Regions from separate parts of the Homo sapiens genome. Here regions 1, 2 and 4 are each linked to region 3. The links come from fine-mapping of genetic effects on gene expression. A gene starts in region 3. Each other region holds a variant in brackets. All regions are shown on one strand. Distances are from middle to middle.

What was found. PIP is the estimated chance that this variant, and not a neighbour inherited with it, causes the effect.
Region 1: its variant is the best candidate, but not a certain one, in a credible set for the expression of WNT2B in sun-exposed skin (GTEx, PIP 0.51).
Region 2: its variant is the best candidate, but not a certain one, in a credible set for the expression of WNT2B in subcutaneous fat (FUSION, PIP 0.81).
Region 4: its variant is the best candidate, but not a certain one, in a credible set for the expression of WNT2B in aorta (GTEx, PIP 0.51).

What each region holds. Positions count from the first base shown.
Region 1 is chr1:112,483,016-112,485,515 of GRCh38, reverse strand. It overlaps a transcript of WNT2B not described here. Among named protein-coding and RNA genes, the nearest start is that of MIR4256, 22 kb to the right of the region's middle. The variant C/T (reference allele first, on the strand shown) is at 1,090.
Region 2 is chr1:112,407,530-112,410,291 of GRCh38, reverse strand. All of the region lies in intron 1 of CTTNBP2NL (CTTNBP2 N-terminal like), which reads right to left. Among named protein-coding and RNA genes, the nearest start is that of CTTNBP2NL, 13 kb to the right of the region's middle. RefSeq lists a silencer at 2,352-2,539. The variant G/TTTG (reference allele first, on the strand shown) is at 1,165.
Region 3 is chr1:112,507,844-112,510,343 of GRCh38, reverse strand. It overlaps WNT2B (Wnt family member 2B), which reads right to left and starts at 1,379. Exons shown (of 5, transcript NM_024494.3): 1 at 900-1,379. The coding sequence starts at 1,081. RefSeq lists enhancers at 144-643, 1,568-2,111 and silencers at 743-1,037, 1,031-1,140, 1,201-1,280, 1,341-1,450, 1,461-1,590.
Region 4 is chr1:112,385,305-112,388,060 of GRCh38, reverse strand. No RefSeq gene overlaps it. Among named protein-coding and RNA genes, the nearest start is that of CTTNBP2NL, 9.5 kb to the left of the region's middle. RefSeq lists enhancers at 1,191-1,725, 1,726-2,261. The variant C/A (reference allele first, on the strand shown) is at 1,216.

The DNA of each region.
Region 1 (2,500 bases), 25 kb after region 3:
TTTCTATTCCAATAAAACGTAGTCTTCATGACCATAACCTTTTTTTTTTTTTTTTGAGACAGAGTCTCACTTTGTCGCCCAGGCTGGAGTGCAGTGGCACAATCTTGGCTCACTGCAACCTCTGCCTCCTGGGTTCAAGCAATCCTCGTGCCTCAGCCTCCTGTGTACCTGGGATTACAGGCACCTGTCACCATGCCTGGTTAATTTTTGTATTTTTAGTAGACACGGGGTTTTGACATGTTGGGCAGGCTGGTCTCAAACTCCTGACCTCAGGTGATCTGCCAGCATTGGCCTCCCAAAGTGCTGGGATTACAGGCATGAGCCATCATGCCCCCAGGCCTGACGACTATAACTTTATAAAAAGCTTTGAAGTTAGATAGTGACATTTTCTAATTTGTTTTTATTATTCAAAGTTGTTTTGGTTATGTTAGGTCCTTTGCATTTCCATACAAATTTTAGAGTTAACTTGTCAATTTCTACAAAAAAGCCTGTTGGAATTTTCACTGGGATTGCATTAAATCTATATATGAATTATTTGGAGAGCACTGAATTCATAGCCATATTGTCTTCTGATTTATAAACACAGTATATCTCTCCATTTATTTAGAACTTCAATTTGTCTTAGCAATGACTTGTAGTTTTTGTGTATAAGTCTTGCACATCTCCTGTCAGATATCTTTACATTTAGTATTTTTGATGCTATTATAAATAGTATTATTTATTAATTTCTACTTCCATTGCTAATATAAAGAAATAAACCTTTTTTTTTTTTTCAAGAGGGAGTCTTGCTCTGTCACCCAGGCTGGAGTTGCAGCCTGAACTCCTGGTCTCAAGCAATCCTCCCACCTCAGCCTTCTGAGTAGCTAGGACTACAGGCACATGCCAGGCATGGAGTTTGGTGATTTAAAAAATTTAAATTTAAATTTAAAAAATTTTGGGGGCCAGGCACAGTGGCTCACACCTGTAATCCCAGCACTTTGGGAGGCCCAGGTAGATGAATCACTTGAGTCCAGGAGTTTGAGACCAGTCTAGGCAATGTAGTGAAACCTTGTCTCTACAAAAACAAAAACAAAAAAAAAATTAGCCACT[C/T]AGGAGGCTGAGGCAGGAGGATCATTTGAGCCTGGGAAGTAGAGGTTGCAGTGAGCTGAGACTGCACCACCAACTCCAGCCTGGGTGACAAGTGAGACCCTCTTCTCTCTCTCTCTCTCTATATATATGTGTGTGTATATATATATATATATATGTGTATATATATATGTGTATATATATGTGTATATATATGTGTATATATATATGTGTATATATATATAAAATTTTTGGAGACAAAATTATATATAAAAATGATATATATAATTTATTATATAAATTATTATATAAAATTGTTAAAATTATTATATAAAATTATATATATATAATTTTTGGAGACAAAGTCTCACTATGTTGCTCAGGTTCGTCTTGAACTCCAGGGCTCAAGTGATCCTCCCACCTCAGTCTCCTGAATAGCTGAAATTATAAGCGCAAGCCACCATACCTGGCTTTTGTCTTTTTGATAATACTAATTCTAACAGGTGTGAGGTGACATTTCATTTGATTTGCATTTCTCCGATGATTTCATATACTTATTGGCCATCTGTATGCCTTCTTTTGGGAAATGTCTATTCAGGTCCTTTGCTCATTTTAAAGTAGGGTTATTTATTTATTTTTTAAATTTATTCTCTCTTTCTTTTTTTTTTTTTGTTATTCAGTTGTATGAGTTCCTTATATATTTTAAATGTTAACCTCTTATCAGATACATAGTTTGAAAATATTTTCTCCCATTCCTTAGACTGCCTTTTTTCTCTGTTGTTTCCTTTGCTGTGCAGAAGCTTTTTAGTTTGATGCAGTCTCATTTGTCTATTTTTGCTTCTGTTGCTTGTGCTTTTTGTGTCACATCAAAAAAAAAATCATTTCCCAGGCCAATATCAAGAAAATGTTCCCCTATGTTTTCTTCTAGGAGTTTTATGGTTTTAGCTTTTAAGCTTAGATCTGTAATCCTTTTTGAGTTGATTTTTGTATATAGTGTGAGACATGGATCCAATTTCATCCTTCTGCATTTGTATATCCAGTTTTTCCAACACTATCAAGGAGATGATCCTTTTCCAATTGTGTGTTATTGGCATCCTTGTTGAAGATCAGTTGACTATAGATGCATGGATTTGTTTCTGGGAGCTCTATTCTGTCCCTTTGCTCTATATATTGTTTTTATGCAAGTACCATACTGTTTTCATTACTATAATGTGTGTGTGTGTGTATATGTGTGTGTGTGTGTGTGTGTGTGTGTGTGTGTGTGTGTGTATCTATGTTGCCCAGGCTAGAGTGCAGTGGCTATTCACAGGTGCAATCATAGCACACTGCAGCCTCAAACTCCTAGGCTGAAGCATCCTCCTGCCTCAGACTCCACTCCCAGGTAGCTGGGACTACCCTGTATCTGGCTATAATACATTTCAAAATTGGGAAGTGT
Region 2 (2,762 bases), 100 kb after region 3:
GCCTTCTGAGTAGCTGAGATTATAGGCATGCGCCACCATGCCTAGCTGATTTTATATTTTTAGTAGAGATGGGGTTTCTCCATGTTGGTCAAGCTGGTCTCAAACTCCTGACCTCAGGTGATCCCCCCGCCTTGGCCTCCCAAAGTGCTGGGATTACAGGTGTGAGCCTCCGTGCCCGGCCTACACTTATTTTTATGTTATCAATAAGTGATTTCAAATGAGCCTGCCCAGCATACCATTTGGTGTATTCACAGGTTTCATCCCACCATGAAATCTTAGCCCAATAGCCAGGACAGCATGAGTCTTTTCTAGATGAACTTTCTTGTGCCAACAGTCAGAAGTTATGGGTATCAAAAACTGCATCCCCCCAACTACCCCACTGTGCCTCCTTAACTGTAGTACTGATTTTGCCTAGAAGTATGTTGGTGTGGCTCTGCTCATTTTATTCTGATATTTTCCCCTCTCTGGATACTATCCGAGCTCCACTTATTCTGGTTTCGGTTATGCTTCTTCTTTCTTGAAGAAGTCCCAGTTTCTGCTCTGGAATTCTGACTTAATTCTATAAGATAACAAGCATTGCTGCTGCCATTTTACCATATAGAGACTGAATGGCGGAAAAAGAAACACCCTAAACAGCTTCTATAGCCATGTAAGCAGTAGGACAGGGCAGGACAGGGCAGGGCAGGGTGGAGTACAAGCAAGATGTTTGTCTGTCTATTATCTGGGTGTGAGCATATCTACATAGAACTGAGGCTTTATTTCTTTCCAGGTGGTAGGTTTTTCCACATAAGGTAGGAAAACAACATTTTTAGATGAGGCTTAGATAGCTCCTGACATAGAAATGCCTCAAAAAAATCTATATAGATCTATTTAAATAAATCAACTGGACTAATTTTTTTTAATCAGTAATTTTACCTAGGAGAGCATTCTTGCAACGCTGGATAAAAATCACTTTTTAATTATATACTCAGATATCGAACTTAAGAAATTTATACTCAGCTATCAAATTTAAGAAATTTATATTTGGACTACAAATGACTCAGATTAAGGTCATTCAGTGAGTTTTTAGTATTGGTGAGCAAAGTGATTAGTGATTAGCGAGCAAAGTTATAAAGGAAATTGACTCCAATTATGTAAAGACTCCTTTTTTTTTTTTTTTTTTTT[G/TTTG]AGACAGAGTCTCACTTGGTTGCCCAGGCTGGAGTGCACTGGCACAACCTTGGCTCACTGCAACCTCTGCCTCCGCAGTTTAAGCAATTCTCCTGCCTCAGCCTCCTAAGTAGCTGGGACTACAGGTGCGTGCTACCACGCCTGGCTAGTTTTTATATTTTTAGTAGAGACGGGGGTCTCACCATGTTGGCCAGGCTGGTCTTGAACTCCTGACCTCAAGTGATTCGCCCACCTCAGCCTCCCAAAGTGCTGGGATTATAGGTGTGAGCCACCATGCCCGGCCCGTAAATACTCTTTCAATACATATAAGCCAAGCCAAAATATAGGAGGCCAGTAAATTCTTAAAACTCAAAGAGCCAAGATGGACATGTGAAATGGGTGTTTTTGATAGTTTGCCACTAGATCATGTACTTTTCTTAAAAACCCAGTATACATGAAATAATAATAAAAAAGAAACTTGCCACATTTACAAATACTAAATCTGAATATGAACAGAAATGCACTGCTATTTTAAAAAATGCATTCAAAGCTTCAGTTAATAGGGTTGCTCCTTAAAAAAAAATTAAAATGTATACAAAACAACCTCATATTGGAGGTAGAAGGTGTTGACACACTACCTTGACTATCTCAAAAGATTTAAGATTCTAATTTTTCAGAAGGATTATTTATTCATTTGGGATAAAAGAGTGACAACATTCTAAATGGTCCCTTTCATTCCTCTTTGGCATTTAAGGGTTAGGCTAGGAAGTAAAACATGTCAATGTGCCACTAGAAAATAATTTTCTGGCTGGGTGCAGTGGCATATGCCTGTAATCTCAGCACTTTGGGAGGCCAAACAGGAGGATCAATTGAGGCCAGGCGCTCAAGGCCAGCCTGGGCAACAGCAAAAAAAAAAAAAAAAAAAAAATTAAAAAAAAAAGAAAGAAAGTAATTTTTTGATTAAGAAAGCAGATCTTTTGTACATTTGTTAAAGAAAGCTGTTTTTGAAGGGCGTGGCTCACACCTGTAATCCCAACACTTTGGGAGGCTGAGGCCGGCAAATCACCTGAGCTCAGAAGTTTGAGACCAGCCTGGACAACATGGCAAAATCCTGTCCCTACAAAAAATGCAAAAATTAGCCAGGCATGGTGGCATGTGTGCCTGTAGTCCCAGCTACTTGGTAGGCTGAGGCAGGAGAATTGCGTGAGCCCGGGTGGTGGAGGTTGCAGTGAGGCAAGATTACGTCACTGCACTCCAGCCCGGGCAATACAGCGAGACCCTGCCTCAAAAAAAAAAAAAAAAAAAAAAGAAAGAAAAAAGAAAGCCGTTTTTGTTACTATTTACAAAAGTTCTAAAATCAAGGTATAATAACTGATCTCATTTTATTCAATTCCAATATTAAACAGTATATATCTCAAATCAAGCTTCTCTCAGATGAAGGTGAAAGATATTACTGGAATATTTGGATTACTATAATACATGTGTTAAATACACATAACACAGGCTGACTTGTACCTCCCAAAATTCATATGTTGAAGTCCTAAGCCCCAGTACCTCAAAATGTGACTGATTTTGGAAACAGGATCTCTAAAGAGATAATTAAGTTAAAATGAGGTCAT
Region 3 (2,500 bases):
TCCCCATGGTGGGGAAGAAGGGAAAGCAGCTCCTTCTCCTACGGGAAGGTGATGAGTGCCATCCAAGGAGTAGGGGGCAGGGAGGATTCTAAAAAGAACAGACACGAGACATCCAGTGGATCTGTAATGCCTTTTTGCCTCATCTGCCCTCTTGTGAAGTGTCTGGAGTCTAGGGCCTGCAAGAAATCTGGGGAGGGGGTCTCTTAGTATCTTGGGACTCCGCAGCCCTCTGGCTCTTGGAGGGGAGAAATGGGAGATGGGAAAGAATAGGAAGAAGGGAGGGAGGCAAAGTTTCCTAAGTGACATCCTCAAAACGGTGGCTGAAGACAAATGCCTAGATAATGCAAACCCATGCGTTTTGTTTGTTTTAATTGTGGGAGTTAATGGGGTAAATTTTGCCTCGATTCCATTTCTAAGCCTCGGCTGGGTGCTGCTGCCTCACCAAAGCCTTCCTGTGGTATGGGTGGGCTAGACTAGCGAGCTGCCCCTTTCTCCACCTCTCAGAGGGCGACCTTAGGCGATTGGGGCCCTGGCGAAGCTATTGCGGGCCCTGGAAGGTTATTCGTTCCTTGAACTCACCCTGAGGGAAACTCGGAAGGTAGCTTCTGCCCTAAGGGGCTTGAGCTGAAATAGAGGGGGTACAGCACGTGGAGGCCTAAGGAGCCGCGACCACCGGGCATCCTTGCTCCGAATGCCCAGCGCCTTTCTCACCAGTCGTGTAAGACGCGGCGCCTCACCCTCCCGCCACCCCGCGACTTCAGATTTCAGTGACAGTCCTGCCCGAATCGTCTCCAACCCGTCGAAGCAACAGCCTGGTCCCGTGAGCAGCCAGTCCCTCCAGGCGCCTCCGGCCTCTCCTACCAAGCGCCTCACCCGCCCAGCCTGAGAGCCACACTTACCACCAGGACGTGTCTACGCGGGCCGGCAGCGTCAGCAGCAGCAGGAGCAGAAGGCAGGCAAGACCTAGGCGGGCCGAAGCCCGGGAGCCGTCGGGGGCCGCGGGCGACGGCACAGGGACCGGGGCGCTGGCGCGCCGAAGCGGGAGCTGCGCAGCTTCCTCCGCACCACCCGGTCTCAGCATAGCTCCCCGAAGACTCCCGCCGCGCAGCCCGGAGGGGCGTGGACGGGGCACCTTCTGGGGGTACTCAGGCTGCTCCTACCTCACCCCCCTGGGGGGCCATGGTGTTCGCCGGCGGCTGGGGACCTAGGATCACCTGGGGTCCAGAGCCCGGGAGGAGGATCCCCGAGAGGGGCGCAAGTTGCGATGTCCGGAAGCCGACGACGGCGTGCCGAACCCGGGGTCTGGGGCGCGCTGCCTGAGGACCGGGTGCGGTGTCAGGGGGTCTGCGGCGCTGAAGGGAGCTGCGGGCCTAGTGTGCGGACAGCCCCTTCGGCCGCGGGCTCTCATTGGACGGGACGGGGCGGGGCCGAGGCCGGGGACACGCGCGGCCCTTAGGGCGGCTCCGCCCGCGCCAAGCCCGGGGCGCTCCGCGACGCCCTAGGTGTAGCAGCCGCCTCCGCCCCTCGGGGCTCCCGCGCGCCACCGCGCTGCACCCCCACCTGCTCCCGCACGCTGCGACGGGACGCCGCGGCTCCCTCCTGCGCCCCAAGCGCCCAGTCCCTGCCGACACCGCGCCACCGGGTCCTAGCGCCCTTCACTCAGCAGCCCCACTTCTATGGGTGACGGCCAGGCTGGCGGAGCGGGAAGGGGATGCGGGCACTTCCCTCCTGTCCCCAACCTACAGTGACACCGGCGCTGAGCACGGAGGATGCACTCATTTCCTCCATCCTTGCGCTTCTGTGAAATGGGTAGAGTCCCTGCCACCGGGAGTTGGAGGTCTTAACTACCTTTTCAACACTGCCTACAGGAGCGCCGTGGGCAGTCGGCTTCTAGCAGGGGATGCTTTCAGCTAGAGCTCATCGCCCCTGCTTCTTCTGAGCCACTGCACCCCCCACCCCCAATGCATCACGTTTAGACCTGGCTCCTGCTTGCCCGGCCTGCCCGGCCCGGGTGCTTTTCTTTACGGACCGGGAATCGACTGCCGACGCTAAGGGGGCACCTGCGGACTCCCCGCCCCTTACTCCTGGGCTCAGCGGAGCTCAGTCTCTCCCCGCTCCCCCTCTGTGCCTCGGTCCTCCACCCTCTCGGGCGGGGCTGAGAGTATGAAAGAATCAGAAACAGCTGGGAGGTTTTCCCGCACCAGAGGCCAGGGTGGGGGTCCTGCCGAGAGAGTGGAAGCCCTGGAGCTTTTTCCCTCCTTCGTCTTCTCGCCCTGCCTCCTCCCCACTGCTCCTTCACCCTCCCTCCGCCCGCACAGCGCCTGGGGGCGTGGTAAATAGGGAAGGGGTGGGGAGGTGCAGTCTGCCGAAAGAGACTCTCCTCTCCCCACCACCCCAACCCTCAAACCTCCCAGGATAGCAGGTACGGGCCCTGCGGGCACTGTGGCCCTCCGTCAGAAGTAAAATTCTTTTTAAAATCCTGGGCTTAACTTCGAGAGTT
Region 4 (2,756 bases), 120 kb after region 3:
TTTTCTTTTTTCCTTCCTTCCTTCCTTCCTTCCTTCCTTCCTTCCTTCCTTCCTTCCTTCCTCCCTCCCTCCCTTCCTTCCTTTCTTTCTCTTTCTTTCTCTCCCTTCCTTCCTTTCTCTCTCTCTTTCTTTTTCTTCTTTCCTTCTTCTTTCTTTCCTTCTTCTCCTTCCTTCCCTCCCTTCCTTCCTTCCTTCCTTCCTTCCTTCCTTCCTTCCTCTCTCTCTGTCTTTCTTTCTGGTCTTGCTCTGTCACTCAGGCTGGAGTGACAGAGCAAGTGGTGTGATCATAGCTCACTGCAGCCTCCAACTCCTGGGCTCAAGCAATCCTCCTGCCTCAGCCTCCCAGGTAGTGAGCCACCAGGCCTGGCTGATTTTTGAATTTTTTGTAGTTTTACTATGTTGCCCAGTTGGTCTCGAACTCCTGGCCTGAAGTGCTTCTTCCACCTCCACTTCCCAAAGTGCTGGGATTACAGGGGCAAGCCACTGTACCCAGCCAGGACCAGGTTTCTATCCCTGTGTCTCTCAACTTTGCTTCCTCTGTGTTGGTTCTGTTTTAGACAGGCATTCTTCCTCAGCTGGCAATAAGCACAGTAGCTCAGGCTTCATATCTTGTCGTATTCAATAGGAAAGAGCACCTGCTCTTTTCCAGAAGTGGGAGAAAGATCCCACTATCTCCTTGGCTCTGCTTGGACTGTGTGTTCATCCCTGAACCAGTCATCGTGGCCAGGGATAGGCTGCTTTTATTGGCTAGATCTAGGTCATGTGCCTGCAGACATGGATGAAGAGTAGGAAAAAGTTATAGCCTCAAATGTTATCTGTCTGTCTGTCTATCTATCTATCTATCTATCTATCTATCTATCTATCTATCTATCTATCATCTATCCATCCATCCATCTATTATCTATCTATCTATCTATCTATCTATCTATCTATCTATCTATCTATCTCTATTACCAGAAAAAGTGGGGATGGATGTTTGGGAAGAAAATAGTATGTACTATGTACTTGAGAGTTTGTTTCACATTTGCTCTCATTCACAGGTCAGCTCAAGCTGGCATCTGTCCAGCTCTGGCTAAGCCTGGGGCTTTTATTGGCCTCAGAGGGGAGGAAGTGCATGTCAGTTGGTCCATGGGCAGCCCGGAAAAGGCACCACAAGTCCCCACTAGGGTCAGAGGGACTGGTAGCCTGGCCTCCAGCCTTTGGGCCCTCCCTGGC[C/A]TAAAGGTGAGGCCTCACCAGGGACCTGCCCCCTTCCACCCAGGAGCCTATCTGCCTCCTATTGCCATCCATGGTGACCAGGCTGCTCCCACCAAGGGGCACCTGCAGGCCAGCTCCAACCTGCCCTCTGCCCCACCTCAGCTCCCCCCACCCCATTGCCCCCCGCAATCTGCCTCAACCCTGCTCTGAGATCAGAGTGGGCACCAGGAGTGGGGAAAGGCCAGGCAGTAGGAGCAGACACCCTCGAGCCTGTGGAGGCAGCAGGAGCTTTCCTGGGCCCCTGAGGGTGCAGAGTACAGAGACACCCAGGTCCTGTGTCTGGGAGGGCGGGGCTGTCACCCAATCCCTGGAGCATGCATGCAGCTCCGGTGGCATCTCCTTGCAGTCTGGGGTGGGGGACTCCAGGTCCTCACTGGACCCCTCTCTGCCCACCCCTGCATGCCCAACCACCCTCCTCCTCTGCCAGTGGGTGGCTCGGCTGGCCTCACTGTGGCGGCCCCCAAACAGTGGGCTCTGGGCATGCTCCCACTTGTCCCTGGCTCCTGCTGACTCCCTTGGAGCACAGCACTGCCCTAGGCCCAGCTATCCCTCCTCCCCCTACCCTTCCTGCAGGGGCGCCACGCAAAAGCCGTGATGCGGTGCCAGGGTCCAGAGTTGCAGAAGCTCCGGGCCTGGGAGTGGGTCCCACCTGGCCATGCAAGGGTGGGGGCGGTGCAGTCAGTTGTCTCCAGACATGGGGCACAGGGGACCCACCACCACCATTGCTGCTCTCACAGCTACTTCTGCCACCACCACTTTCACCTCCCTGCGGCAGTTGGCGCAGTGGCAGTGGCTGCTCCAGATGGCCCACCACTGACATCAATATCACCCACAAGAGAGAGTTTGCCTTTAATGTATATCAGACAACTGTATAAACATTTGACCAGAAATTTACATGATTTATGTAATACAAAGTTCTATTCCAGTCCAGTTTTATAACAATTTTTCTTTTAAAACAGAAAATTTAAAATTTAGTATCAGTTAATACTGTTTGTAGAAAGCCATGGACCATCCCATTTCAAGGAATTCCATTAGACTTCATCAGTCCTGTTTCTTTCTTTCTTTTTTTTTTTCCTTTTCTTTTTTTAGATGGAGTCTCTGTCACCCAGGCTGGAGTGCAGTGGCAGTGGCGTGATCTCAGCTCACTGCAACCTCTGCTTCCTGGGTTCAAGCGATTCTCCTGCCTCAGCCTCCCGAGTAGCTGGGACTACAGATGTGGGCCACCACACCCAGCCAATTTTTGTATTTTTAGTAGAGACGGGGTTTCACCATGTTGGCCAGGCTGGTCTCCATCTCTTTACCTCATGATCTGCCCTCCTTGGCCTCCAAAGTGCTGGGATTACAGGCGTGAGCCACCGTGCCCGGCCACTCCTGTTTCTTCATTAATTTCTAACGCCACTTCTCTCCAGACCCTGCCTCCCATCTTCTCTTCCAGACATAACCCCCTTCTTAAAGCAAATTCATTCAACAAAATATGTTGAGTACCTGTGTTCTAGGCACTA